7 linked regions of the Homo sapiens genome follow. The protein of the gene in region 5 purifies or fractionates together with the protein of the main gene of each other region. This does not show direct contact. Each region holds a gene or a part of one and is shown on either strand. Other genes may lie near its edges.

The links.
Region 1: the proteins of ERC1 (region 5) and TBC1D23 fractionate together in Homo sapiens (co-fractionation; one large-scale study listed by BioGRID). This does not show direct contact.
Region 2: the proteins of ERC1 (region 5) and WDR4 fractionate together in Homo sapiens (co-fractionation; one large-scale study listed by BioGRID). This does not show direct contact.
Region 3: the proteins of ERC1 (region 5) and CRLF3 fractionate together in Homo sapiens (co-fractionation; one large-scale study listed by BioGRID). This does not show direct contact.
Region 4: the proteins of ERC1 (region 5) and OCRL purify together in Homo sapiens (co-immunoprecipitation; one large-scale study listed by IntAct). This does not show direct contact.
Region 6: the proteins of ERC1 (region 5) and PAWR fractionate together in Homo sapiens (co-fractionation; one large-scale study listed by BioGRID). This does not show direct contact.
Region 7: the proteins of ERC1 (region 5) and KIAA0930 purify together in Homo sapiens (co-immunoprecipitation; one large-scale study listed by IntAct). This does not show direct contact.

What each region holds. Positions count from the first base shown.
Region 1 is NC_000003.12:100,295,492-100,298,991, reverse strand, and holds part of TBC1D23 (TBC1 domain family member 23), read right to left. Parts: intron 2,821-3,500; coding exon 2,717-2,820; intron 1,070-2,716; coding exon 947-1,069; intron 1-946. UniProt on the Homo sapiens protein: Putative Rab GTPase-activating protein which plays a role in vesicular trafficking. Involved in endosome-to-Golgi trafficking.
Region 2 is NC_000021.9:42,859,040-42,862,539, forward strand, and holds part of WDR4 (tRNA (guanine-N(7)-)-methyltransferase non-catalytic subunit WDR4), read right to left. Parts: intron 3,356-3,500; coding exon 3,243-3,355; intron 684-3,242; coding exon 623-683; intron 1-622. UniProt on the Homo sapiens protein: Non-catalytic component of the METTL1-WDR4 methyltransferase complex required for the formation of N(7)-methylguanine in a subset of RNA species, such as tRNAs, mRNAs and microRNAs (miRNAs).
Region 3 is NC_000017.11:30,784,439-30,786,692, forward strand, and holds part of CRLF3 (cytokine receptor-like factor 3), read right to left. Parts: intron 1,594-2,254; coding exon 1,481-1,593; intron 455-1,480; exon of another isoform or gene 345-454; intron 6-344; coding exon 1-5. UniProt on the Homo sapiens protein: May play a role in the negative regulation of cell cycle progression.
Region 4 is NC_000023.11:129,585,259-129,588,758, reverse strand, and holds part of OCRL (inositol polyphosphate 5-phosphatase OCRL), read right to left. Parts: intron 1,758-3,500; coding exon 1,641-1,757; intron 581-1,640; coding exon 496-580; intron 1-495. UniProt on the Homo sapiens protein: Catalyzes the hydrolysis of the 5-position phosphate of phosphatidylinositol 4,5-bisphosphate (PtdIns(4,5)P2) and phosphatidylinositol-3,4,5-bisphosphate (PtdIns(3,4,5)P3), with the greatest catalytic activity towards PtdIns(4,5)P2.
Region 5 is NC_000012.12:1,081,723-1,085,222, reverse strand, and holds part of ERC1 (ELKS/Rab6-interacting/CAST family member 1), read right to left. Parts: intron 2,060-3,500; coding exon 1,643-2,059; intron 1-1,642. UniProt on the Homo sapiens protein: Regulatory subunit of the IKK complex. Probably recruits IkappaBalpha/NFKBIA to the complex. May be involved in the organization of the cytomatrix at the nerve terminals active zone (CAZ) which regulates neurotransmitter release.
Region 6 is NC_000012.12:79,617,965-79,621,464, reverse strand, and holds part of PAWR (PRKC apoptosis WT1 regulator protein), read left to right. Parts: intron 1-257; coding exon 258-389; intron 390-3,500. UniProt on the Homo sapiens protein: Pro-apoptotic protein capable of selectively inducing apoptosis in cancer cells, sensitizing the cells to diverse apoptotic stimuli and causing regression of tumors in animal models.
Region 7 is NC_000022.11:45,202,895-45,206,394, forward strand, and holds part of KIAA0930 (uncharacterized protein KIAA0930), read right to left. Parts: intron 3,019-3,500; coding exon 2,899-3,018; intron 2,814-2,898; coding exon 2,736-2,813; intron 2,425-2,735; coding exon 2,323-2,424; intron 1,092-2,322; coding exon 951-1,091; intron 291-950; coding exon 96-290; intron 1-95.

The sequences.
Region 1 (3,500 bases), on a different chromosome or scaffold from region 5:
AAGGAGAGTGTCTGTTTGAGCTATAAAACTAATTATAATTAATTATAAAACTAATTATAAAACGCTATATAGTTATAAACACAACTCTAGATATGCTATTCTTTTTTGCAAATAAATCTGCAAATTTATCAACAGCTCAATTCACGTAAGAACTAAACATCTATTTCGTGTGGGGGGATGAAGGGAGAATGTTCTGAAATACCAGTTTCAACTAAAGAAGTTCACATGGATCTCTTTAAACTGGATAACATGTTTTCATTTGTTTTTAAATATTAGTTTGAATAAGAAAAAAGTGAGATGCTTGTATTTTGAAAATCCTCAATAACCAGCGCAGATACAGTAAGAAATCCAACTAAGAAAGATCTACCATAAAAGGCTATTTTCCCACGTCCATTCCTTTCCTGCCCTCAACCTTGGAAATACACTACACCTTCCAAATACACACCATGGTTAACTGCTGCACTACTAGTAATAAAGACCATATATTAAAAACATCATTGGTCAAATTGACTTATTAGATTTTCATGAAGAAAATTTCATTTTCACAATTCTCCTTTGCTATAAGTTGTATGGAACTAAACCATGTAATTCAATTAGCTGTAAACTACCAGAAACTGTTAAATGCTAAATTCACCCTTTTAAAAGTATTTTATACAATGCCACATTCAGTTGCTCTACTGAAATATGGAAAAAAGATACGGCGATTTACAAAAACTGGTGTCAAGAATGTCAACAATAATTAATTGTAGACAATTAAAACACCACACAAGCTGACAAGTTTTAAAATGACCCTCTGAACATAACATTTAACACAATCATTCAAAAAGCCAAAAGAGCCACCTTGTTGCAGTAAATTGATTTTGTGGGAATCAATGAACAGGGAGGAAGTTGGTTCCTTGTATTTAAAATGAACAGTCCCCTAACAAACTGGGTTTCCTTTACTTACCCCTTGTAGCTGATTCGCTTGAAGGATCTCTGACACGGAGATGGCCAGACAAAGAGCCTGACTCAGATCTGCATCATCATCCTTAATTCCCAACAAAGTACTACCAAAGAGATGGTGATTATCCTGTTTGAAGGGAAATTTTTAAACATTATGAAAAAAAAAATCAAACTTTCTTCCTAAAAATATTCTTATTAAACCATGATAAAAGGTAAAATTATAATACTCTTGAGTTGTGATTTTTTAAAACTTAATACTACATAATCTCAAATTTTATAGGCTAAGAACTACAAAAATGTCACATAAAGTCCCTGTCAGTGTTCATACAAAATGAAAGACTAAGAAAAAAAAAACACATTCTAAATAGCTATTTTCTATACTACCACCTGTAGTTAATATTGAACTTTAAAAATGGTTACTTACAATTTTTCATATCTTAATAAAAACAAATATGTGGCAGAAATCTATTGCATAAATGAGTTAAAATACTGATCCACAGCCTGCTCTAATTCACAACTGCTAGTACAGTTTCACTATGTCTGAAGAATAAAAGGTGCAGCTCTTGAATAAGAAAAAAAATAAGACTTCTTTTTCATTCAGTATTTTAAACTACTATCCTACCATCTGACTTATACAGCATTGTTAGGAACTGAAGAGTTCTATATAAGAAAATTATTAAAATAGTTGAAACTGGTCCCTAGAAATAAGTCTTTTTAAATTAGTTATTTTTGAGGGAAAATGATCTTAAAAGGTTTCCTTTACCTGCTTTCTAAAACACAGTATACTAAACATAACTTAACTTTATCTTGACACTTCAGTGACACGATGAGTACCAACTAGAAATTATTATGGCAGAATGCTTTAAAAAAAAAGGTGCTCTCATGGGCACCTGAAGTCACATACAAACCTGTCTGCTTTATAAACTTGTGCCTCTTCCACTATTAGCTTTTGCTTCTTAGAGTTTCATTTTTCAGGAGTTCACATCACTCATACTTCTAATCTGGTGTCCTTTATTAGGCATCTGTCTGGTCTAAGGATCTAAGTCTTTACGGGGCCTAAATGACCTTTCTTTATAAGACAGCTCAGCATTATTAAGACTATACAAGCCTGAACTCCAGAGAAAAGTGGCAAAACTCTACCTCCTCCACTGGATTACTACTGTAATATAATTTTTTTTTTTTTTTTTTTGAGACAGAGTCTTCACTCTGTCGCCCAGGCTGGAGTGCAGTGGCACAATCTCAGCTCACTGCAAACTCCGCCTCCTGGGTTCACGCCATTCTCCTTCCTCAGCCTCCCGAGTAGCTGGGACTACAGGCGCCCACCACCACGCCCGGCTAATTTTTTGTATTTCTTAGTAAAGATAGGGTTTCACCGTGTTAGCCAGGATGGTCTCGATCTCCCGACCTCGTGATCCACCCACCTTGGCCTCCCAAAGTGCTGGGATTACAGGCGTGAGCCACCACGCCCGGCCCTGTAATATAATTTTTAAAGTCAAGAAAGCACTAATTTAGAAAATATCTCAGTCAATTTTCTTATGATCAGAAATAACAATAATCAGAAGAGAGGTAAGATGCGTTCTACTATCTTTTTAACTTGTCTGTTCCTCCACTAGGGAGGGTATTTACAGAGATGAAAAAAAAAAATCACACAAAACTACAACACATAAAGAAACAGAAAAAATTGACAACCTATTTTAACTAAAGTGAATATAAAGTAATAAAACAATGTACAAAATATGAAATACAACATAGTTGGTCATTTCTGGTCTTATACCTTCCTAAAAGAAGCCGGTGTTTTGCTGCAATAATACTGAGCCAGAGAGAAAAGGTCTTCTATATCTTCTATATTCAGACTGGATGGAGTATTTTCCAAGAACTCTGAAATATTATAGACATAATATTTAGTAGTTTGTGAAAAATGCAAATATTGTTTATGTATCAGAGCCGAAATATCTTCATCATAAATACTATGCAAATGGAGTCTCAACACTGGTGCTTTTACAATGACTTGTGGAAAAGTGGATTTCTCCAAATGAGCTGAAACGGCTAATGTAAATCTCTTGTCAGTGAAGGATAGTGTCAGGCAATCAAATCAAATTCATTAACCTTAATTAGAATTCTATGATTTATTTATTAAACATATATGAAGAAATGCCAAGGCCCCTGAACATAAAAAATGCCTAAGAAATAGTTACTGACTTAAAGAACTTTGTCTTGTGTGAAAAAATAAAAATAAATCATTATAATACAGTAAGATAAACATTGTTATACAGATAGAACAAAGTGCCAGGGAATATAGAGAGGAAGTAACTATCTCTATGTGGGGGATATGGTGGGGAGAATCCAAAAGGAGAACCAAGGTTTCACAATTGAAATATCATATAAACTGAGTATTGAAAGGTAAATTAAGGATGGGTAGGGAGGAACAGAGGAGGGCAATCTATTCGAACAGTGAAACTAATGAAATAGTATATGGAAAGGAATGAAAGAGTGAACAAATATGAAGGAATGAATGAAGATGGCAAAATAAAGGAAAATAGTCTTTAAGGTCTGTACCT
Region 2 (3,500 bases), on a different chromosome or scaffold from region 5:
AACACGTCTCTCATCACTAAACTGTAAGGCTTCCAGGACCCAATTGCTGGGACACAGAAGCTGTACCCAACAAGCAAAAATGCACTGTGGTAACCCGGGTGCGGGCGCTCGAGCCTGTGGTCCCAGCTACTTGGGAGGCCAAGGAGGCAGATCGCTTGAGCCCAGGAGTTTGAAACCAGCCTGAAAAATGTAGCAACACCCCATCTTAAAAAAAAAGAAAGAAAGAAAAAAAGGAAAGAAAAGGAAAAAAAATGCAGCCCGTAATGGGATGGACTGAGACCCCTCCAAGAGTCAGAGAAGCCCCCGTCTACTGTTTCTACCTGAGATCCTGATCCCCGATACCATCGTAGATGCAGCAGCCGCCCTCAGAAGGGAGCCTTCCACACACCCGTGCTAGTTCATCCCACAGGCGAACACACACGCACCTACGCACACCCCACACGCAGTCCTGAGTGAGCGGCCGCAGGCGGGGAGCGAGCCGCAGGCAGCTCTAAGATCTAGTGGACAGCCACAGCCAGCCAGGGGCCAGCGATCCACAGGGGCCAGGTCCAGGAGGCGCCCACCCCACCCTCCCTGCAGGCTCAAGAATCCAGAGGTGAGTGACGCTGGGCAGAACACTTACCCCAGAGGAGGACAGAAGCAGCCCGGGCTGAGTTGGCACCACGGAGATACGGCTCACAAACCTGTGAGGGCGAGAGAGAGCGGCAGAGTCAGCGAGCCCAGCGCCCGCAGGGACCGGGAGGCCTGGGGAGGCCGCCTGTTCATCTAAGGAAGAGAAGCCTCTGCCCTAAACCCCCTGATCCAATAAAAACAGCCAACATGGGAAGTAGCTGTTAACCCTAACCTGGTTAGGGTTAACCAGGTGGAGGCCCCTGGACGCAGTCGGGGAGGTGAGTGAGGTCATTCCTGGGTCCCCAACAGCACAGCAACCTCTAACCCAGGCCGCTCCTCAGCCATGCCTGCCAGAGACCCAAGCGCCTCTGTGCCCCTCTGCAGCCCCCTCTGCAGCAGCTCTGCTCAGCGGCACCTCTACAGGCCCCCCAGCACCCACCCTGGCCCAAGGCACCTGCACTGTGATGAAAGGAGCCTTGGGGGAGACTCAAAGACACGGGGGAGACTCAAAGACACAGCACACAGGGAGGAGGGTGGAGGGAGGAGGGCAGCCAAGCCCACAGGTTCCTATCAGGGTCCTGACGGCCCCTCAGCAACAACTCTGAGTGACCTGGCCAGACAGCTGTCTCTGCTGAGCCCGGCCCAGTCCTCCTGTGAGGGGTTGGCCTGCAAGCACAGGACTCAAAGTCACAGGGACCCTCCCATCAGAACAGCCATGAAGAATAACCCAAGCAGCCCAGCTCGCCTGGAAACCCATCTTGGCTCGGGCACCTACAAGGGTGACAAGGCCCCTTTTCTTCCCACTCTAACACAGTGGCCTCAAGCAATCCCTCATGCACGGGGTTCCCGGGGACCCTGGAATGGGGTGGCCCGTGAGCCTCACTCCATCTCCACCAGTCATGGCCTCTGCTACCTTGGGCTAGCCATCGCGTGAGCCGGGCCCGGTCCCGCAGCCACCGCCCTGCACGGCACCACAGCACCAACAGCAGCCCACAGCCCAGGACAGATAGGGCACAGGACGCCCCGTGCAGAGGGCACGAGTGGCCTCACAGTTCTCAACGGTTTGAAAGGCCGGGAAACCAGTTTCCAGGGGTCTGAAACAAAATCTCAAAACATAATTCGTCCAATCACTGCAGTTATCTACTGAGCACCTACTCATGCCAGGCACCACGCTGAGGGCTGCACACACCAACAGGCCCAACAGACCCACAGAACCACTCAGACGCAGCGGGAGACGGCCAGTGAACCAACTGATACTGCAATGTCAGCAAAGGGCACAGAACAGCACATCCAGCAGAAACACACCTCCAGCCACACACAGGGGCCACGGGGCTTTGTTTTCAATTTGCCAGCCACTATGTTGAAAAGTAAACGGGCAGGCCGGGCACGGTGGCTCACGCCTGTAATCCCAGCACTGTGGGAGGCCGAGGCGGGCGAATCATGAGGTCAGGAGATCAAGACCAGCCTGGCCAACATAGTGAACCCTCGTCTCTACTAAAAATACAAAAAAAAATTAGCCGGGCGTGGTGGCAGGGGCCTGTAGTCCCAGCTACTTGGGAGGCTGAGGCAGGAGAATCGCTTGAACCTGGAAGGCAGAGGTTGCAGTGAGCCAAGATCACGCCACTGCACTCCAGCCTGGGCGACACAGCTAAGAAAGAGAAAAGAAAGGAAGGGAGGGGAAGGGTGGGGTGGGGAGGGGGGAAGGAAGGGAGGGAGGGAGGGAGCAGTTGAAGTTAATTTTAATACTATGTTTTTACTCAATACTTCTAAGTGATGAAGCATTTCCCTAGAAGGGTGAGAAGCGTGTTCCCGTCAGCAGAAACCTCCCTCACGTGCCTGGCGAGGCAAGGGAGCTGCAGAGACCCCAGCGAGAGATGGTGAAGGGGAGGGGCCGGGGGGCTGCAGGCCAGAGAACTCCAGAGCTGGATCACTAGCGAACTAAATGCAAGTCAGAAGAAGCTATCCTGAGGCACACACCAGTGACTGGCCTTCTTAAACAGGAAATGTTTGGATCAAAACCAGGAAAACACAGGCAACCTCGGCACTGAATTTCCTCCCTCCAATTTCTTCCACTGCCTCAAATAATATATTTTAAAACATTTCAGCCAATTACACTAAGCGTTTTTCCTTTGTGTAAATTCTAATGAGCTTTTTGTGTGAGACAGGAGCGGGCATTCAGAAACACCTCCACATGGGTCCTGGCAGAGTGTGCTGCCACGAGAGACGCCGCCACCTGGCTGCAGAGGCCGCTTAATTCTTGGACAGCTGAAATCACTAAAGTTCATCCTCGCCCCCAACACCCCCACCACCCACCAGCGAACAACTCCCGGGCATGGTGCAGGGGTCTCCACACTGAGACAGGGGTTTCCCGGAAACAAGCCCTTCCTGTTCGGTCAGGCCCAATGCCAAGTTACTGGCACAGACTCCGGGTAACAGCGCAGAGTGAACCCCACCCTTTCAGGGCTTCTGCAGGCAGCACCACGGCGCCTGCAGTGACCAAACACCAAGCACGGGGGCTGCTGTCACCCGCGTGGGGCCTCGCCAGCTACAACGGCACCTGCTGAGCCGCAAGCTGACGCTGTTTTCAAACAGACCTTCTTTCTGCTGGAGGGGCAGGAAGGGGCACTCACTCTGTGTGCCCCAAGCAGAAGGACTCGATGCTATGGGGCGCCGCGGCCCAGCTGACTCGGATCTTCTCGTCCCGGTCGGCAGTGAGGATGAAGCGGTCATCAGGACTCACAGCCTGCATCACCAGGGGCCAGAAAAGAAAAAGCCGCTCACCTGAGTCTTCCCGAATCAAGTCCCTCATGGAAGAAGGCAGGGAAGCTGCAGCCTGGCCGCCAAGAGGATGAGGCCTTCGAGGACAGACCAGCGTGGCTCCTCCCCTC
Region 3 (2,254 bases), on a different chromosome or scaffold from region 5:
TGCACCTAAAATGTTAAGGTAAAGAGTCATTTACATGTGAGCAATAACTAAGAGATCTGAAATAGTTTCTAGATTACTGGTAACACAGCTCATTTCCTAATTCAGATTTTAAAAAATCTGGAATGCCAACTGGACATAGATTTTAGAGTTCTGTCCAGGGTTGTACTCTTCCAGCAGAGACTATGAGTTTCCCATATCAGTGTCATCAAAAGAAACTTGACAGTGTTACAAAATTACCTCCTGTGAAATAGCAAGACTATTTCTTATGGAATAAACAAGAAAGAATCTTGTTCTACCGAATTCTTGACTCACCAACACAATTTTTTTTTTTTTTTTGGAGACAGAGTTTCACTCTTGTTGCCCAGGCTGGAGTGCAGTGGCATGATCTGGACTCACTGCAACCTCCACCTCCCAGGTTTAAGCAGTTCTCCTGCCTGAGCCTCTCGGATTACAGGTATGTACCACCACGCCCAGCTAATTTTTGTATTTGTAGTGGAGACAGGGTTTCACCATGTTGGCCAGGATGGTCTCGATCTCTTGACCTTGTGATCCACCCACCTTGGCCTCCCAAAGTGCTAGGATTACAGGCGTGAGCCACCGTGCCCAGCCAACACCACAAAATATTATTAACATGTCTTGCTAGTGAATTTTTTTTTTTTTTTTTTTTTTTGAGACGGAGTCTCACACTGTTACCTGGCATGATCTCGGCTCACTGCAACCTCCGCCTCCCGGGTTCAAGCGATTTTCCTACCTCAGCCTCCCAAGTAGCTAGGATTACAGGCACCCGCCACCACACCTGGCTAATTTTCTGTATTTTTAGTAGAGACAGGGTTTCACTATGTTGGCCGGGCTGGTCTTGAACTCCTGACCTCGTGATTTGCCCGCCTTGGCCTCCCAAAGTGCTGGGATTAGAGGCGTGATCCACCGCGCCCGGCCTCTGGCTAGCGATTTTTAAAGAGCACTAGGGATGTAGACTGAATGATTTATTATTTGTAGAATTTAGAACAATGCCTGGTACATGGTAGTCACATAAATTATGTCATTAAGACCAAAACTTTCAGCCAGCCACGGTGGCTCACGCCTGTAATCCCAGCACTTTGGGAGGCCACCAAGGTGGGAGGATTGCTGGAAACCAGGAGTCAAGACTCACCTGGGCAACAACTTATCTTTACAAAAAAGTAAAAATAAAAAAAATTAGCCAGTCACAGTGGCATGCACCTGTAGTCCCGGCTACTCAGGAGGCTGAAGTGGGAGGATGGCTTGGGCCCAAGAATTTCAGGCTGCAGCGGGCTACGATCATGCCACTGTACTCCAGCCTGAGTGATGGAGTGAGACTTCATAATAAAAAAAAAAAAAAAGAAAAAGAAAAATACCTAAATTTTCTCATCTCCTACTATAAATGTATGGAACTGGAACAGATTCACATATTACTAAAATAATTAATATATTTCCAAGAGAATGACAGTTATTTATCTCTTACCATTTGTACTAATGCACACAGCTTGATCCCGCTGCAGAGAGTCATATCCATCCTGTTTTTCTGCACACACTCCTATGCTATCTCTTCTGTCTGGCTGTCCCACAGTTTCAACTCTGTAAATGAAGTAGAAAGGTCATTTCATACTTTTAAAAATATAACATGAATGATACTTAACAGCCACTAGCTTAAAAAGAGCAATCTCACCACAATTGTTTTTTTCTAAATAGTACAGCAACCATGATTGAGTTCTTGCTATACTCCAGGCACTGTTCTAATTATTTTATATCTATCTATCATTCTTACAACAATCTATGAGGTAGGTGCTTTTTCTTTTTTGTTGAGACGGAGTCTCGCTCTGTCACCCAGGCTGAAGTGCGGTGGTGCGACCTTGGCTCACTGCAACCTCCGCCTCCCGGGTTCAAGCAGTTCTCTGCTTCAGCGTCCCAAGTAGCTAGGATTACAGGTGCCCGCCACCATACCCGGCTAAGTTTTCTATTTTTAATAGAGATGGGGTTTCACCATCTTGGCCAAGCTGGTCTTGAACTCCTGACCTTGTGATCCACCCACCTCGGCCTCCCAAAGTGCTGGGATTACAGGCGTGAGCCACTGCGTCCAGCCGGTAGGTGCTATTTTTAACATACCCATTTTATAAGTGAGGAAAATGAGGCACGAAAAGAAAAAAAGATTAAAAATAGCTAAATAACCTGATCCCGACTACCTGGCTGATGACTGGTGGAACCAGGACTCAAACACAGGCATTCTGACTCTAGAATC
Region 4 (3,500 bases), on a different chromosome or scaffold from region 5:
TGGGGGTTTGATATTTTATTGATTCAAGTGCCCTGCAGGTGAGTTGTTACAGAATTGGTCAAAGACTCTTGGCAGCTTTGGCCCAGCTTCAGGGTCAGGGGAATATAGCCTGCAGAGTGACAGTTGACACTGGAGCAGTCCTATAAACCAGGTGCCCATGTTTCCCATCCTTCTCCCTGCCCTGTCAACAGTACGTGTGGTGGCAGGAGTGACTGATCACCTGAAGGAGAATAGTACCAGTGCTGTGGCTTCTATGTCCCATGCTTTTAAGTCATTGTTATCTACCCCTTGCTTCCTTTTAGTAAGAGCTGGATATGGAAAGAGGTCAAAAGTTCCTGAAAGGAAATGAGAAACAAGTGGATAGTCAGTGGTTATCTTATAATAAAAGATATTACAAAGAAAATAAATATAGAACCACAAAAATCAAATATAGGTGCGAAGAAGAGTTTGATCAAGTACTCATCCAGCTTCTTAAGCTTTGGTCGCAAAGGATACGGATTGTCTCAGGAATGCTGGTATCCAGACAATCAATGATCTGCTGGAGCTCTTCCTGCATTCCAGGGGTCTGGAACAGGTCCTCCTACCAAAGAAGTCAGAATGAAGGGACAGGCAAGATAATCACTCCTGAGGTTATGATGATTACCCAAGGATCAGAAGAGCAGCAGGAAGCAAAAGGGAAGGGTGGTATGTGTGTTAATAATTACAAATGGAGGTGTGAAAATAACACATTTTTCCTTTAGCATTTCTCTAATCCATGTGAAATGTTATTTCAAATAGGAAAATGATCTTTTCAAAGGTTTTAGCCTGTACCTAATAAGGCAGGGGACTAGATGGCTAGAGCAGGAAACCAGGTGTTCTAATTCTAGCCTCCTTTAAAATTTTTTTTTATAGAGATGGGGTTTCACCGTGTTGCCCAGGCTGGTCTCAAACTCCTGAGCTCAAGCAATGCGCCCGTCTCTGCCTCCCAAAATGCTGGGATTACAGGCATGAGCCACCATGCCTGGCCTACTTGTAGCCTCTTGACAAGCAGCAGAAGGCAGAGTCCAAACAGAATAACCACATTCAAATGCTAGTACTACTGAACGCTGGGGAAGGAGGAAATCGCATGCTCATACTAAACCTTGCTTTCAAGTTACATTATTCGTCAGTAGGTAAGAGAACATTACCTTTCAATTTAGTCCCAAGAAATATCTCTTTTGGGGGCGAATGAGGTGGGGTGGCATTTTAGTTAGGATTTAAAAGAAAAATTAGGACCAAGTTAAAAAATGGGTTTAAAATCTGCTTTGGATTTTACAATCTCTAATGCCTACATGACTCATAGCCAAAGTAGGCATTATAGACTCAGGTGTGCAGCTGTCCAGGGAAAATGAGAGGGTAGCCAGGAGACAGGTGCTCTTAATTTGGTCCTGGCTCTGCCACAACTACACTTAGGCCTTTGTCTTAGTAAATAACTTACCTTTACATGCTTCAGCTGTGACATCTGTGACTAGGACACTTCCACCCACCCAGTCGATCTGACAGTGCCACTGTGTGCAGGTAGCTTGGGAAAGTTAAAAGCGCTATGCTGACGTGAGGTGTTGTGATTTCCTATAGTAGTTACACACCTTCCAAAGTTGTAGGGAAGGTCTACTCTCACTTACCTGGTGACAGGCGTATTTGAATAGGTGATCTACTAGAAGCCAGATCTCCTTGGGAACCTGAAGGGGTCTCTCACTGGCACCTTCATCCAAAGGAACCATTTGCAGAAGGGATTTCTCCTAATAGATGGAAAAGTATGAGAATCAAAGGGGTCTCAGAATAAAGACTTTGGTGTATAACTTAAAGTCCTTCAAATTCTGGTCATGCAGGTAAAATGTGATCTTCATCTCTTAAGATTTTCCATTTCTTCTCACTGGGGACACTCCTGGTCAGAAGGCACTTGATAGCGAGTCCCATAGTTAAAGGATGTCCTTTCCTAAATGCTTCACTTAATTGTTCTGCATTTCATTTGCGTTTATGATGTTTATTACGTGGATGCCTTGTGTTTAAATCCTTTCAAAGGTGACACTGAGAACCAGTGCTCCGGTGATACAGTCACAGTGGAGTCCATACAGCACTGGTGACTTGGGGACTATTAAATTACAATTGTCAATACAGTAGTTTGAGAGATCAAGGTCTACACTTAGGTTTTTGTTTATTTCTAACTTACTCTTCCTTCAGGTCTTACCACAGATACTGTTGTTTGTTTTCAATGTTGATTTAAATTAGCTTCTTTAGTTTTCAGGAATTAAAGACAACTCTCCACAACATTAGACCCACATATGTAAATACTTCAGGCTTGATGGAAGTTCTAATCTTAAGGTGCTAAAACTCGTAAGCCTTAAGGTCCAAAAATAGTAAACTGAATACAGCTAACCAAGAGGCAGAAATACCACGAAAAGTTTAAGGTCTGAGTCCAGAAGTTACAGTTTCTAGGAATAGCTCAGCCAAGATTTCTAGGGGCTTTTACTCCTTTCATCTATCTTTCTACTATCTGTTATATTCTTCTGAAAGAATTTTGTAAGAGAAAAACCCAGAAGTGACATAAATCAAATCAATCACTATATGTGAATTGGAAATGGCTAGGAAATAAACTCAGTTATCTTAGGTTCATGTAATCAAATATAAATTACATGAAAAAATGTTTGAAATAGTAAAGGCACCTGAAGGCACCCTTCATAAAAATCCCAGTGGAGAGAACCATGACCAATTTTTTTGCATCCTCCTCCCTCCCCCGCCTCTAGCTTGAGGTCATATATATTCTGTATGTTTAACTAAGAAATTCTTGCCTAACATTGTGCAACTTGTGAATTCCATCCACAACCCCCAGTCACGTAGCTTTAAAAGAAAAAAAAAGGAGCATGTCACTACTTTGACAGAGACCACATACACTACAGCCGAGCTGAGGTCTCTTCTTAACATTGTGTTCTTTAACAAGCACTGATGACCTTTAAAAGCTGCTGTGCCTTTCCAAGGGAATAAGAAAGAGAAGGGAGTGTGACAGTTGGTTACCATTTAAAATCTTTCTTTTTTTTCCCCACATTCAGTTTGCTTCCTTTCTTTCCCTGGGATTCTATCACTTGATATTCATGTTCCTAATAGTTGCCAGAATGTCTATCAATGGCTCATCCATTTACTTCTTTCCAGTTACAAATATCAAATCCAAGCATCCACATGGTATTTGAGACAAAACACTGTCCATCATGCACTCTGCTAACTCTCTGGACCAAATGCAGCACGTGTACTGATTCTTTAGCAGATGCCTCCAAACTTGCCATATAGAAATTATGCAGCACTGATTCATGTACTTTTTAAAAAGTCTGACATCCAACTGGAGCTTTTCCTGTACTAAGGCATTAAGGCAACACAAGGCACTGCCTAAGATAAAAAGACAGAACATGGACTGCTCTTAACAGGGAAGAGCTAGGAAGCACAGCTGTCTCAAACCTTGGTGGTTTAAAAAGGTTAATAAAGTGTCAGTA
Region 5 (3,500 bases):
ACAATAATAATAATAATGGGCCAGGCATAGGCATATTGCCTGTAATCTCAGCACTTTCAACAACAACAACAATAATAATAATAATGGGCCAGGCATAGGCATATTGCCTGTAATCTCAGCACTTTCAACAACAACAACAATAATAATAATAATGGGCCAGGCATAGGCATATTGCCTGTAATCTCAGCACTTTCAACAACAACAACAACAATAATAATAATGGGCCAGGCATAGGCATATTGCCTGTAATGTCAGCACTTTCAGAAGCCAAGGAGGGAGGATTGCTTGAGGCCAGGAGTTCAAGACCAGCCTAGGCAACATAGGGAGACTCTGTCTCTACAAAATTTTTTTTTTAATTTAAAAATTAACAATGCATGGTGGCATGCACCTGTAGACCTACCTACTAGGGAGGCTAAGGCAGAAGGCTCACCTAAGCCCAGGATTTCAAGGCTGCAGTGAGCCATGATCATGCCACTGCACTCCAGCCTGAGTGACAGAGTGAGACCCTATCTCTAAAAATAAAAACAATAAAAATTTAAAATAAAAAAAAAATGACTGGAAGCATATACATAAGTTAATAATTACTACTAGGTAACAATACTTTGAGTTATAAGTTTTTGTTAATCTATTTCCCAATTTTACTACAATGGATTTCCAGTGTAATAACATCATGTTTTTAAAAAACAATGATGTTCTACTTCAAAAATAAAAATGCCCTCACTGTTAAAAAAGATTTCAGACTTTTTACAAAAGGAAAAATTATAGAACAACCTACAAATTTAGAAGTATTTTTAAAAATTATTATTTTGCTGCTTTGGGAATACGCCATTTTTTAAACCTCCTTCCTCACATTTTATTTAAAAAGGAATTATTCAGACTCATACTAACACAGATTAGGGATTTATTTTCCCCTGCCCAAAAGTGAAAATTACCTGAAGTCCAACTATATATAGAAAAGTTATTATGGCTATTAATTTTTTAATTCAATATAAGATGGTTTCTTCCTTTACGCCTTCTTAAAATGATACATTATTTAGAAAAGTAAAAAATTATCAGTAGTCACCTAGGTCAGCTAAAAATAAGTAACACTGTGTCTCTACATCACTCTCTCCAGCTATGCCTCCATGGCAGCCAATGATTTTTATCACGTATCTTTTACAGCAAGGCAACAGTTTCCATGGAAACCACAGGGCAAATATCCATTATTGCTGCCAAGGACTTTTATAAGCACACATAAGCTGAGATAACCGCTTACTCTCTTTTACTAATATTTTTAAATTAAGCAATGGTTAGCTATTCTGATTCTGGTTTTGTTGTGTTTGTTGTCTCTATGAACAGATCTAGAGATGAGTGAAAAATCAAGGAATTTTTTACCCCTTTAGCAACAAATGAACTCTCAAAATCAGGGGAGCAGGAGAGAAAAGACCCAGAAAGTCACTGAGCCAGCATACATACCAGACAATGTCATCCCATACAACAGGGCAAATCAGAACAGAAATCAGTGACGCACTTAAATACAAAGGATGAAATTCTCTTCCACCAGCACGGCAGAGCACGTAGATTCACTGGGGCCAAGATGCTGATTAATCAGTGAAAAAAAAGATAACCAACAAATCATAAAACTAAAAAAGTAGTCACATACCTCTCTCAACATACTGTTCTCTTTTTCCTTCTGCTCCAAAAGGCTTTCTAGGTGATGAACGTGCATCTCTGCCTCTGCCAGTCGTCTTGTTCTCTCATGGTCTTCCTCGGTAGCCTTGGCAGAAAGTCCTTTGCTCTGCAACATTTCCAGAAGCTTCTTAATGGATTCATCCCGAGCATTTAGGGTCTGCTTTTGAGTCTCAATACGCAGCTCCATTTCCTCCAATGTCTTTCGAAGAAGAAACAGCTCTTTGGCCTGCCGCTCATGCTCAGCATGAAGCCTCTGAAAGTTCTCCTCTGTCAGCTCTGCTACACAAGGTTCGCCAGTCCTGCTGCTACTATCCTGCTGAAACAGCTGATTCAGGTCCCTCTGGATCCGCAATTCATCCTGGAGAGCCTGGATTGTCATCTGCATGTGCTAGAACCAAGACAAAAAGAAAACCCCCAAATCAGCTTTCCTCCTCAAGTAGCAAATCAGAGCAGCCTGCAGGAATCAAAAATAGCTACAAGAAATCTGCATCTAGCAAATTAGGATTCACCTTATTCTGTTTTACAGGTCCTTAAAAAATGATTGAGATAATATGCAAAATGTCAGTAATTTAACTTCAGTTTATTCTCAACAGGAAGCAAAATAAGTATGGCACTCACTCCTCACTTTGCATAAACTACAATAAAGACACTGTTCAAAATTAATAGAAGATATTAACACGGAAACTAAATTTGAGGGAATGTGGGAAATGGGAAATCTACAGGAATATGAATACATTCTTTCAAAAAATTTCATCAAAACAGCCGGGCGTGGTGGCTCACACCTGTGTAATTCCAGCACTTTGGGAGGCCAAGGTGGGCAAATCAGCTGAGGTCAGGAGTTCAAGACCAGTCTGACCAATATGATGAAACCCTGTCTCTACTAAAATACAAAAGTTAGCCGGGCGTGGTGGCGTGTGCCTGTAATCTGAGCTACTCGGGAGGCTGAGACAGGAGAATCGCTTGAACTTGAGAGGTGGGAATTGCAGTGAGCCAAGACTGCACTCATTGCACTCCAGCCTGGGCAACAAGAGTGAAACTCTGTCTTAAAAAAAAAAAAAAAAAAAAAATTTTTTTTTTTCATCAAAAAATACAAAGGATGGCCAGGCGCGGGGGCTCACACCTATAATCCCAGCACTTTGGGAGGCCGAGGCAGGCGGATCACCAGGAGTTCAAGACCAGCCTGGCCAACATGATAAAACCCCATCTCTACTAAAAATACAAAAATTGGCCAGGCACGGTGGTTCACGCCTGTAATCCTAGCACTTTGGGAGGCCGAGTCGGGCACATCACGAGGTCAGGAGTTCAAGACCAGCCTGGCCAACGTGGTAAAACCCCGTCTCCACTAAAAATAGAAAAATTAGCCAGGCATGGTGGCACGAACCTGTAATCCCAGCTACTCAGGAGGCTGAGGCAGAAGAATTGCTTGAACTGGGAGGTGGAGTTTGCAGTAAGCCAAGATCACACCACTGCACTCCAGCCTGGGTGACAGAGCAAGGCTCCGTGTCAAAACAAACAAACAAACAAGCAAAACCGAAGGACAGCGAAATACAAAATGACTTTTAAGTATTATAAACATTAAATAATAAATATTAACATTTAACAAGTAGTTTGTATATGCCAGATTGTACCACACATTTTTTATGTTATTTAATCTTCATTATGACACATGGACTCTTTTTTTATTTTACTGTAGTAAAAACCCTTAACATGACATCTACTTTCCTAACAACTTTTAAGTGTACAATGCATTACTGCTGACTACAGGTACAATGTTATACATCAAATCTGTAGAGTTTATTCATCTCAACCAAAAGTTTATATTCCTGTTG
Region 6 (3,500 bases), about 79 Mb from region 5:
TTAAGAAAACCCTGTCACTGATGTTTGGAGTTTAGGGAAAAGATTTGTTGGCAGTGGTGTGGATATGGAAGTACAAGTTTTAAGCAGATAATTTATAGGAATTAAATGTACATATTGCTGAAAGAAAAATACTTTTATTATGCAAACTAATTTCTGAATGCACAAATATTTCTTTAATACTATCAATATATTTTCACATATTATCGAAACAGTCTATTAATAGTAGAAATAAAATGGAAACTCTTTTTTTCTTTCAGTGCTTAGATGAGTACGAAGATGATGAAGCAGGGCAGAAAGAGCGGAAACGAGAAGATGCAATTACACAACAGAACACTATTCAGAATGAAGCTGTAAACTTACTAGATCCAGGCAGTTCCTATCTGCTACAGGTGAGTATTTAAAAATACCAGGAAGTCACTATCTATTTTAATGGCAATTTTTCAATTATGCCTCTTGAGTTGTATGTAGTAATATATCTCCCATTGCCTCCTTTCCTCCTACTTATGCCTTCCTTACCATAAGTGGGTTCTGACATCACATGTTGGGCTCACCGTAAGCATGAACACTCTCTTCACCCTTTTCCGGCTTGTGCATCCTTTGATAGGCTGTTCTGTAGGGCCTCTGTTTGCTCCTGCTGAGACTCGGAGAACTCATGTCGGATTGCTCCTCCATGGGGACTCTTCCTCAACTTGATTAGGTTTTGACAACTCCAGGCCAGACTGCCACTCCATGTGAACATTCACTTCATCCTGCCTGCGCTCTGGCACAGAATACCCCATGCCAGGCTGCCTCTTGGAGGGTAGACATTTTTTACCCTGCTAGAGCTCTATCACCCTTTTCTGAGCCACCCTCCTGTAAAGGTAAACTTCACATTCTACTTGGGACTCTGGCTGCCCCTTTATGGGACTCCCTTTCTGACCTTGCCTCACAAATGAGGCCTTACCTTCCCTGCTTTGTAGAAATCTTCTTCATTCTGCTCAGGCTCTGATTTCTTAGGTCAGGCTGAGTGAGCTGTGCTATGTGAGCAGTCTCCTTGGTTTGCTTGGACTTGAATTCTCTATGCCAAGCAGCTCTTCTTTATGACAGGTTCTGATACCCTGATCTGAGCCACTGTGTTTTCTCACGTTGCTCTGCCCTGCCTAATGGCTTTAGGACTTAATTATTCAGGAAAGGAAGGGGAAGGATGAGTTTTTCCTTTTAAAATATTTGTTAATTTGATAAAGCTCTTATTTTTCATTTTCTTATTTTATCAGTTATATATTAGAGAAATTTTATTCTGAAGTCATCTTCAACAATATATCATACTAAATTATACATGGCAACATAGATATTTTAAGTTAGTCCTGAGGGTCAGTTAGCATGTTATGCCATAATTTTACTGAGGGCTGTGGCTTTGTTGCTAGATTATTTGAATAACATCAGTATTACTTTGCTGTATTCATCTGACTTGTATTTGTCTGATCTTATTTCACCTATGCTGTTATACTTGTTTATACGTTAGAAGTTCTGATCTGCCACTGTACCTGTAAAGACTGTTTTCATGGGGATTTCCTTATTGATCTTTATAAGCTTGAATAAAGCAGAGCGTTTTATTTAAACTTACACAAAACAGTTTGTGCTTTGCCAACATTTTCTCAGCTCTACATAGATCTTTCCCCTTCCCTTTAGTAATAGAAACCATCCCATTGCAAGGAAGATTGTTTCAGAAAGAGTATATTTGAAATCAGTTGTATAACAGACTTAAGGATTTGGGGGAGATCTAATTACGTAGTCTTTGAAACTTTTAAGACCAGTACCAGTCTTAACAGTTGTACTTTTTACAAGCCGTTTCAATGATACTAGTATAGCAGTACCCCCATATCAAAGGGAGTTATGTTCCAAGACCTCCAATGGATGCCTGAAATCATAGATAGTACTGAACGCTATATATACTATGCACATATTTGTTTTTCCTTCCTTACAATTTCATGGATAGAAGATATGTTCTTATCATAAAGCTTAGCAACTTCAGGATATGATTTTTCTTTCTTTCGTTATTAAGCTGAGAATTTTCACCTTTTTACTTAAAGCAAGCACTTTACAGCTTCTCTTTGGCATATCAGAATTGCCAGCATCACTACTCTTGTACTTTGGGGCAATTATCAAGTAAAAGAAAAGTTAATTGAACACAATCACTGGGATACCACAACAGTCTGATAACCAAGGTGGCTCCCGAGTGACTAATAGGTAGGGAGCATAGACACTGTGGTTACATTTTACAAAGGGATGATTCAGGCCCTGGGCGAGATGGAGCAGGACAGCACCAAGTTTCATCATGCTAGTCAGGACAACTCACAACTTAAAGTTTATAAATTATGTCTCAAGTTTTCTATTTAATATTTTAATTTATTAATTAAAATACTAAAATTTTATCAATTAAAATTATTAAATAACAAATATTAAAAATTATTAATCTAGCTTTATTAATACCCATGGGTTGACCATGGGTAACTGAAACTGTAGAAAGTGAAAGCTTGGATAAGGGAAAAAGGACTACTGTATTTCTTCATTTTTTTTTTCCCTATTTAGTATGGAGTAGTAATTATTAAAGTGCCAAATAATTATATAGTTGTTTCTTTGCCTGGAAATTGTTGTGGCTACAGAAATATAGTTAAGACATCTAAGGTGACGTTTATATTTGTGTGGAATTTTGTTCTACCATGTAAGAATGTCAAGCATTTTCCTCGTTAAAATTATCAGGGACTTATTTCAGTGAACATAATGTCCTCTGCCGTCATCCATTTTGTCGCAGTGATCTCACTTATATGTGGAATCCAAAAAAGTCAAACTCATAGAAGTAGAGAGTAGAATGGTGATTACCAGAGGCTAAGGTAGATGGAGAAAGGAGAAACATTGGCCAATGGGTGCAAAGTTACAGTTAGATAGGAGGAATAATTTCTGTTTTATTGCACAGTAAGGTGATTATAGTTCATAATAATGTATATTTCAAAATAGCTAAGAGTATTTTAAATGTTCTTACCAGAAAGAAGTGATAAGGGCCTGGTGCAGTGGCTCATGCCTGTAATCCCAGCACTCTGGGAGGCCGAAGTGGGTGGACCACTTGATGCCAGAAGTTCAAGACTAGCCTGGCCAACATGACAAAACCCCATCTCTTCTAAAAATACAACAATTAGCTGAGCATGGTGGTGTTCACCTGTAATCCCAGCTACTCAGGAGGCTGAGGCACAAAAATTACTTGAACCTTGGAGGCGGATGTTGCAGTCAGCTGAGATCACACCACTGCATTCCAGCCTGGGTGACAGCGAGACTGTGTCTCAAAAAAAGAAACAAAAAAAAAAAGAAGTGATGAGTATTTGAGGTAATTCTGTATAGGTTGTTCTTTGCATTGCTATAAAGAGACACCTGAGATTGGATAATTTATAAGAAAAATAGGTTAAATTGTCTCACACTTCTACAGGCTACACAAGCATGGCATCAACATGTGCTCAGCTTCTTATGAG
Region 7 (3,500 bases), on a different chromosome or scaffold from region 5:
ACACCTATGTCCCCAGGGGGCCGTGAGCACGGGGGAGACGGTGGAAAGTGAACTTGACGGATGGGAGCCCCCGCCCCCAGCTGTGCAGCCCTTACCCGCTCGTGCATGGGCGAAGCTGGGCTGGAGTCCTCTTCAGTCCCACAGGGGGATGTGTCACCTGTAGACACTCGGCTGACCGCCATCTCGGCGTGGCCCTTGCCCTGGGGGCCCTTCATGCGCACAAACTCCATGTTGCTGTACTTGTAGAAGCCAAACGACATCTTCTGTGCCATGCGGGCGGCCACGCTCACCTGGGGGCCGGCGCGGGGCAGCCTGAGTCAGGGAGGTGGCGATGGCTCCATGGGGCCCCTCCCCAGGACATGAACAGCCAGGGCGACCATCCCTCAAGGAGCGGGGGCTGCCCGGGAGGGAGCGTCTGAGCTGGCAGGCGGGGCAGCTGGAATGGACCCACATCTCTGCCTGGTGCCCCTCCTGGTGCCCCTCCCACCGCCCCATGAACCACGGACCAGGCTGAGGACAGGGCCCCAGGCTGGCAGCAAGGCTGGCTGCGGATGGTGCCCGCTGGGGGAGAGGGGCCTGCCCACATCTGCTTGCTTAGTTGGGGGCGACTCGGAGCACTCCCAGGGCCAGTCGCAGGAAGCAAGTGACAGTGAGGAGGTGACAGCGACACCATCAGCCATCACTTCCCAGGGAACTAGAGACTGAGGAGGAAGTTCCCGCTCACATTTCAGATGAAGGCAAGTGGCCCGCATGGGCTGAGGCCGACCATGAAGAATGACGTTAAGAGGACCAGGGAGCGCCTAGAAGGAGCCCGGAGGGGCTGCAGGTACCCCTGGCGGCCGCTACCATGCACAAGCAGGCTGGGGGGCCCCATGGTATGGACCACGGTGGGCTGTGGAGCCGCCGTCCCCGGGCCCAGAAGAACACCCGTGAGGCCGCCCCGCACTCACCCGGTTGTCATACACCTTCTTGAGCGCCTCGTAGCGGATGGAGCCCTGAAAGATGACCCCCTGGAACGTGTTGGTTTTGTCACTAGCCACCAGCTCCACACAGACCATCTCTCCTTCCCCTACGGTCATGTCGCTGAACACCTGGGCCAGGACACAAAGAGACAGGGACGTGACCATCAGCTCCCACCGCCCACACCACAGCCTGGCCCAACTGGCAGGGAGGGCTGCTCAGAAAACCCCATTTTGCAGGGGACAACCGGCTGTCACACACTCCTGTGGCCCCATGCCCTCCGAGCCCCACAGGACAAGAACAGCCTCACACTGGGGCAGGGGCTGAGCAGCAGGGGAGGACAGGGACGCTTACGGAGACTCTGGGACTGGCAGAAGACGCACACCCTCATCACGGTTCACCAGGACCGTCAGCCACCGTCTGGGCCCCTCCACACCGCCTAGGGGTGCCCAGCCCTGCCTGCCACATCTTTGAGGCTCCTGTGTGGCCAAAGGCTCAGTGTGGTGGCAGGGTGACTGCCCACCTGGGGTGACAACACCAGACTAAGGTGCCACAGGCCCCATCCTGCCACCTTCCCGAGTCATTGCTCCCAGGACCTGGTGCACAGACTGTGAGCTCCGAGGCCACAAAGACTTAGACGCAAATCTCAGCTCTGCCCTCTAGGAGCTACGTGTGCCTGGGGAGGGGACATGACCTCCCTGAGCCTGCGATTTTCCTGCAGACGCCCACGCCTTCCTCCTAAGTCCTCAGGGCCCTGAGCACCTTGGATGCGCACAAGGACCCCGACCAGGGCCTCAACAGAGGAGAGACACAAATGGGCAGAGCAGGGAGTGAGCTGCGACCGGCTCCCTCCCCGCCCTCCCAGTGCCCTGTGTTTCTCGGTGAGTCTCCTTCTGCCCAAGCCCGTTTCCCAAACCTTAAAACAAAGGCTTGGCCCAGATAACTCCGGAAACCCCATCCCTCTTTGACATCCTAGGATTCCAAGTCAGTGCAGGCGTGGAGGCGCTTCTTTATCATTTACTAGCATTAATAATGGCTCCTCCCGCCCGGGCAGTGCTTCTTGCAAGAGTTTATGAGGCGTCCTCCCACTCAGGAGCCTTTTAGTCTTCAGCCCTGACAGTAAGTAGGACAGATGATCATGACACTGATTTTACAGAGGAGGAAACGGAGGCTGCGCCGGGGAAATTCACCTGCCCACAAGCAAACACTGGGAAGAGAGAGAGCCACATCTGCCTCAGCCGGACTCTTCCCGGCTCCAAGCCACCCATGCCTTTCTGCAAGGCTAAGGCCGCGGGGAGAAGCGCCTAACACCCATCTCACGAGAAGGGGAAGCTAAGGAGAGAGGCCCTGTGCAGAGCTCACCTCCTCGAAGCTGTCAATCATGAAGAAGATGTTGGGGTAGCTGATCTTGGACTCCTCCCCCTTGCTGTCCATGGGGTGTTTACTGGGGGACGCGAACACTTGCTGGAAGAAAGCAGATTTGGAGGACAAGTGAGGCCCCACCCGGCACACAGGCCCAGAGCCAGTCCAAGCCAGTATAGGGAGGCCACCCGGCCCAGAGCCAGTCCAAAGCCAGAGACCTACCAGGAGATGTGGGGGATAAGCTGGTTCTGTGCTCCTCGAATGGGATACGGGATCCCAGGAGCTGAGCAGATTTCTGGAGTCAGACCCCTCACCTCCAGGGCAGAGAAGCAAGCAGGAGGACTTGTCTCTCTCTGCCACGCCCAGCCTGAACTGGCAGTTAGGAGGCTGGGGGCTCTCGTGCCAGGGCTCACCTGAGATTTCTTCTTATGGATGTGAATGTCCCCGCCGTCAGCACGTGTGCACACCGCACAGGTCACCATGTAGTCCAGCTGGAAGAGAGCACGGGTCAGCGTGCAGGGAGGGGTCAGCCATCCCACAGGGCCAATCCGCAGCCCCACCCATCCCACCCCATACCTTCTGCAGGATGAGATTCAGGCAGACGCTCTCCTCCCAGTCGATGTCAGGGTCTCCCAGGCCTGGCAGCTTCTTGGAGTCCCGCCGGTACACCTCCACCTCCACCTCAGGCTCAGCTGCCTGCGAGGCCCAGAGCAGAAGTGAGTGCCCAGGGCCCACTGTGGTGCTCTTCTTCTTCCCTGACTACTATGCAGGCATTACGATGGACAAGGACTCCAATTCTTTTTTCTTACTATTTTTTGAGACAGGGTCTCACACCGCTGCCCAGGCTAGAGAGCAGTGGTGCAATGACAGCTCACTGTAGCCTCAACCTCCTGGGCTCAAATGATCCTCTCACTTCAGCCTCCCAAGCAACAGGGACCACAGGCACGTGCTACCACACCCGGCTAATTTTTAAAACTTTTTGTAGATGTGGCGTTTCGCCATGTTGTCCAGGCTGGTCTTGAACTCCTGGGCTCAGGTGATCCTCCTGCCTCGACCTCCCAAAGTACTGGGATTACAGGTGTGAGCCACCATGCCCGGCCAGAACTCCAATTCTTGCTCCCCAGTTCTCTAGCGACGGGAGATGGGACCCAGGGGCCATCCATTCTCCTCACTAAGCC